2 separate regions of the Homo sapiens genome follow, and region 2 is reported to be linked to region 1. Evidence: microRNA targets listed by miRTarBase, many of them from high-throughput screens and not tested one by one. Region 1 holds a microRNA gene; the other region holds the end of a gene's coding sequence.

Region 1 (3,114 bases):
TGGCCTGGTGGTCAGATTTCTGGCACTTGTAGCAAGCTCCTGGGGGAGGAGGTTCTGGAGGAACACCTGGCCGCTGTGGTTCAGGCGTTTGGAAGTTCTTGTGTGCTGGAGATGTGGCTGGGGTTTGTCTCACAGTGGAGGCAAGGAATTGCAACTTTTTTCTATTATTGTACACCTTGTAGGCAAGGTTAATTAAATCCTGTTGTGGGGTTTGAGGGCCGGAATTTAATTTTTGGAGTTTTATTTAATGTCGGGAGCAGATTGGGTAATAAAATGTATATTGAGAATAAGATGGCCTTTTGACCTTTTAGGGTCTAGGGCTGTAAAGCGTCTCAGGGTTGCTGCCGAACGAGCCATGAACTGGGCTGGGTTTTTATATTTGATGAAAAAGCCTAAACGCTATCTGATTTGGGATAAAGAAAAAGGAGCATTAACCTTGACTATGCCTTTAGCTCCAGCCACCTTTTTAAGAATAAATTGCTGGGCAGGTAGGGGAGGGCTAGTCACAGAACGAAACTGTAAGCCAGACCAGGTGTGAGGAGGGGAGGCGATAAAAAGATTACAGGGTGGAGGAGTGGAGGCTGAGGAAGAATTGGGACCTAGCTTGGGCTGGCGAGGAGGGGAGAGGTCAGATGGGTCTGTAGAAAAGGAAGATTAGAAAGACTCAGCGACGCTTGGGGTTGGGACTGAGGGGACAGGCGGGAGGGAAAGAAGGAAGATTTGGGAGGAGTTGCACTGGGCACAGAGACTAGGAAGGGACTGATGTGTAAAAGAATGCCTGGACGTCAGGCACCTCAGACCATTTGCCCCTTTTACGACAAGAATTATTTAGATCTTGTAGGATGGAAAAATTGAAAGTGCCATTTTCCAGCTATTTGGAACTACTGTCGAGTTTGTATTGGGGCCAAGCAGTGTTGCAGAAGAAAATAAGGCGTTTAGGTTTTAGGTCAGGTGTAAGTTGAAGAGGTTTTAAATTCTTGAGCACACAGGCTAAGGGAGAACAAGGAGGAATGGAGGGTGGAAGGTTGCCCATAGTGAAGGAAGCAAACCCAGAGAAAAGAGAGCGTAGAGACACAGAGGGAAGGGGTTTGGGGGTTCTTGCCCCCTAGAAAAGCGGGACTTGCCACTAAGGGTGAAGGAGAAGGGGTTGAGGGGTACTTGCCCCTGCCCCAGGAAAGCGGGACTTGCTGCTAAGGGTGAAGGAGAAGGGGTAGAGACAAGGAGAGAAGGGGTTGGGGTACTTGACCCTGCCCCAGGAAAGCAGAGAAGGGGTAGAGACAAGGAGAGAAGGGGTTGAGGTACTTGCCCCTGCCCCAGGAAAGCGGGACTTGCCGCTAAGGGTGAAGGACCAAGGCAGGCCTCCCTGCGTGGTCTGACACCCTTGAAACGTGGGTGTATAATCAGAGAGGCATCCCTGCAATGATTAAACACCAAGGGAAGGCTGCCTTCCCATTCCATCACCCACGCCAGAGTTTTGGGTCCACGGATAAAATGTGTCTCTTTTGTCTCTACCAAAAAATGAAAGGAATTGAAATTAAGAGAAGGGAGAGATTGAAGTGTAGCGCCAAGATTGAAAGGAGAAAGAGGTTGAGGGATAGTGAGGGAAGTTGGAGAAGAGAGTAAAAGGAGGCCGCTTACCAGATTTGAAATTGGTGAGATGTTTCTTGGGCTGGTCGGTCTGAGGACCTGAGGTCGTAGGTGGATCTTTCTCATGGAGCAAAGAGCAGGAGGACGGGGGATTGATCTCCCAAGGGAGGTCCCCGGATCCGAGTCACGGCACCAAATTTCATGCGTGTCCGTGTGAAGAGACCACCAAACAGGCTTTGTGTGAACAATAAAGCTGTTTATTTCACCTGGGTGCAGGTGGGCTGAGTCCGAAAAGAGAGTCAGCAAAGAGTGGTGGATTATTATTAGTTCTTATAGGTTTTGGGATGGATAGGCGATGAAGTTAAGAGCAATGTTTTGCGGGCAGGGGTGGATCTCACAAAGTACATTCTCAAGGGTGGGGAGAATTACAAAGAACCTTCTTAACGGTGGGGGAGATTACAAAGTACATTGATTAGTTAGAGTGGGGCAGGAACAAATCACAATGGTGGAATGTCATCAGTTAAGGCTATTTTTACTTCTTTTGTGGATCTTCAGTTACTTCAGGCCATCTGGATGTATATGTGCAAGTCACAGGGGATGCGATGGCTTGGCTTGGGCTCAGAGGCCTGACAATCAGTATTCCTGACATTTTGATACTGGCATCAATTTTCAAATTTCATGAGCTCTCTATCTATGAGACGTTCTGGTTATTGGAATTTCCCCCCAACCTGGCCCTTTAAAGAGATGATATCCCTTACGATAAGCTCCCTTTAACTGCCTTATCATTTCTGGTTCAAGTTGATGAATCAGAAGCATAAGAAAAAGACTTATATTTTTCTTTATTTACTCTATAAGTATTTATTGAGCACCCATGATCAGGACATTGTTTTAAGTTTTGGAGACATACGAATGACTAAACTCAGAACTATACTCTTAAGGATCTGATAGTTTATCAGGGATGACAGAGAAAAAAATGAATGATTTCCATTCAATGATATAGGTTCCTTCGTATAAATAATTATGGGGCACAGTAGATACTAAAGGAGAGAACAGGGAAAGGGCAACACAGAGGAAGTGACACTTATGCTGTAGCTTAAAGACTAAGTAGGAATCTTCCAGGCTGACAAAAAGAAAAAAATAGCACTCAGAATAGGCTACAGTATCTACTAAAACAGAGAGTAGTGTAAAAGCATGACTATGAAATCACAGCATTATTTTGGTTATATTCAGCTTGATTCTAGGAAAACTCACAATCGTTACATCTTTAGTAAATCTTTTTCAATTAATCTTTAAAAATGGAAACTGGTAGCATATTTATACATTTTTATACATGGGCCTTATACTTTAAGTGTGAAGTTCATCCTTAAATTCACAATGAACTTCAGTTTCAGCCAAATATTTTACCGTTTGTTTTCCTTTCACCCTGTTAAAACAAAGATAAACTGTAGTAAATAAAAATGAAAGTAATGCATCAATGAGAAGAGAAGTTTCTGTAGTTTTGCCTTTGTAATGACACCCACTTTGATC
Region 2 (3,082 bases), not on the chromosome of region 1:
CTCCCAGGGCCTCCTCACTCTCAACACCGTGTGCCTCATGAGTGGGATATCGGGCTTTGCCCTGACCATGCTGTGCTGGATGAGCTATTTCTTACGGAGACTGGTTGGTATCCTGTATCTGAATGAGTCTGGCACCATGCTGCGGGTGGCCCATCTGAACTTCTGGGGCTGGCGGCAGGACACATACTGTCCCATGGCAGATGTGATTCCCCTGACAGAAACCAAGGACCGGCCTCAGGAGATGTTTGTGCGTATCCAGCGGTACAGTGGGAAACAGACCTTCTACGTCACCCTGCGCTATGGACGCATCCTGGACAGAGAGCGTTTCACACAGGTGTTTGGGGTACATCAGATGCTCAAGTGAACAACTGGGACCTGGACCTCTGGGTAACCCTGGGTCGCCTGGATTAACAGGAAGGCTGAGGGTGTGGGCAAGGCTGAAGAAAGGGGACTGGGTACTTGGAGACTTTGCCTGGGCCCCTGGGAACATGTGTTTTGTGGTGAATAAATTCACAAGGCAAGAGCTGGTGTACAGGTTTAGGAAAAAGGCTCTAAGCAAGTTCTTACAGCACTTGTTTGTGACATTCAGTCAGATAATGGCCAGAAGTTTTTGTTAAGAGCCAGTTCTTAGAAGAACCTATGCCAAGGTCACCCATAGAGTCCATTGGTGTGAAAGAGAAAGGCAAAGAGGTGTGGCGGGGGAGCGTAAGATTTGGAGTCAGAAGTCTCAGTTCTGTCATTTGTCCTGGAGCAGGTTATTGAGTCTCTTTGAATCTTGGTTTTCACATCTGTAAAATGGAAAGTCCTGCTTGTTTCATGGGATGGGTGTGGGAATAAACAATAAATGTCAAACGTGTGGCAGACTCAACAGCCTACAGCAGATATTATTAAGCATTTGGTCAGAGGTTTTAGCAGGGAGAAAGGCTTCGAGCAGTCAGCAGGGACTTCCAGAGCCCTGTGCTGTGCCCCTCACATATCCAGCGGCAGAAGGGTCTGTCAGGATGTTAACTACACATTGACGAGCAGATGTCGTCCAGGTAGGCACGAAACCCCAGTTGAGATTTGTTCACCACCCAGAGGTCTAGAGGCTCTTGCTTTGGATGGCCCTGCAGTGTAATAAAGCCAAATGCACCGGATGCTGGTACGTTATTTTATAAACTTAAGCCAGTTATATACATTGCCCCACATAATTAATAATATATGTTCATTATACAATTTGTAACACAGTAAAGAGGAAGGAAGGCATGATCTTTATTATTTTGCCACTCGAAAGTCAATAAGAATGTTTTATCGCTGGGGGCGGTGGCTCACACCTGTAATCCCAGCACGTTGGGAGGTCAAGGTGGCGGATCACGAGGTCAGGAGATCGAGGCCATCCTCGCTAACAGGGTGAAACCGTGTCTCCACTAAAAAATACAAAAAAATTAGCTGGGCGTGGTGGCAGGTGCCTGTAGTCCCAGCTACTCGGGAGGCTGAGGCAGGACAATGGTGTGAACCTGGGAGGCGGAGTTTGCAGTGAGCCGAGATCACGCCACTGCACTCCAGCCTGGGCGACAGAGTGAGACTCCGTCTCAAAAAAAAAATATTTTTTTTTATTGTGTAGCCTTCCATTTTTCTTAACCATACCAAGATACACCTAACAAATTTATCCTTTTAATCATTTTTAAGTGTGCAATTCAGGGACATTAAGTATATTAACAATGTTGTACAGGCTGGGCACACTGTCTCATGCCTGTAATCCCAGCACTTTGGGAGGCTGAGGCGTGTGGATCACTTGAAGTCAGGAGTTCAAGACCAGCCTGGCCAACATGGCAAAACCCTGTCTCTACTGAAAATACAAAAATTAGCTGGGCATGGTGGTGGGCACTTGTATTCCCAGCTACTTGAGAAGCTTGAACCCGGGAGGCAGAGGTTGCAGTGAGCCGAGATTGCACCAATGCACTCCAGCCTGGGAGACAGCCAGACTATCTCAAAAACAAACAAAACAAAAAATGTTGTACAACCGTCACCACCATCTATTTCCAGAACATTTTCATTATCCCAAACAGAACTAATATACCCATTGAGCAATAATTTCCTTCTTTTTCCAGCCCTTGGCAACCACTAACCTGCTTTCTGTCCCTCTGGATTCACCTGTTCTGGATATTTCATATAAATGGAATCATACAATATGTGACCCTTTGTATCTGGCTCTTTTTTTTTTTTTTTTTTGAGTTGAAGTCTCGCTCTGTTTCCCAGGCCAGAGAGCAGTGGCGCGATGTCCACTCACTGCAACTTCCGCCTCACCAGCTCAAATGATTCTGCCTCAGCCTCCCAAGTAGCTGGGATTATAGGTGCCTGACGCCAAGCCTGGCTAATTTTTGTATTTTTAGTAGAGATGGGGTTTCACCATGTTGTCCAGGCTGACCTGGAATCTCTGACCTCAAGTGATCACCCACCTCGGCCTCCCACAGTGCTGGGATTATAGGCGTGAGCCAGTGCGGCTGGCCTGTATCTGGCTTCTTTGACTTGGTGTAGTGTTGTCAAGGTGCATCCGTGTTGTAGCATATGTCAGTGCTATTTCTTTTTTATGGTTAAATATATTTACGGGTGCAGTGTGTATTCTCTGTGTGTGCCACATTTTGTTTGTCCATCTGTTGATGGACATTTGAGTTGTCGTCACCTTTTGACTACTGATGAATGAACATTTGGCTATTGCTGTGAACACTGGTATACGAGTATCTGTTTGAGTCCCTGCTTTCAGTTGTTTTGGGTACGTACTGAGAAGTGGATTAACTGGATCCTGTGGTAATTCTGTTTATTTTTGAGGACCTGCCACTTTTCCACAGCAGCTGTACCATTTTACATTCTCACCAGCAACAGACAAGGGTTCCTGTTTCTCTACATTCTTGTCAACAGTGGTTACTTTTCCTTTTTTTTAAATTTGAGATGGAGTCTTACTCTGTCACCCAGACTGGGTTGCAGTGGTGTGATCTTGGCTCACTGCAGACTCCGCCTCTCAGGTTCAAGCGATTCTCCTGCCTCAGCCTCCTGAGTAGCTGGGATTACAGGCACCCACCACCATGCCCAGCTAATTTTTCTG

Evidence for each region. Region 1 holds the annotated microRNA hsa-miR-4454 (GGAUCCGAGUCACGGCACCA, at 1,763-1,782, shown strand). A microRNA usually pairs through its seed, bases 2 to 8, with sites in the 3' UTR of a target mRNA and lowers its output. Matches are read on the target gene's strand: a 7mer-m8 pairs with bases 2 to 8, a 7mer-A1 pairs with bases 2 to 7 and ends in A, and an 8mer does both.
Region 2: miRTarBase lists TMEM186 as a target of hsa-miR-4454. The part of its 3' UTR that is shown has no 7-base or 8-base seed match.

What each region holds. Positions count from the first base shown.
Region 1 is chr4:163,092,275-163,095,388 of GRCh38, reverse strand. MIR4454 (microRNA 4454) reads left to right here and starts at 1,761; the gene lies at 1,761-1,815.
Region 2 is chr16:8,793,234-8,796,315 of GRCh38, reverse strand. It overlaps TMEM186 (transmembrane protein 186), which reads left to right. Exons shown (of 2, transcript NM_015421.4): 2 at 1-1,136. The coding sequence ends at 364. Among named protein-coding and RNA genes, the nearest start is that of TMEM186, 2.9 kb to the left of the region's middle.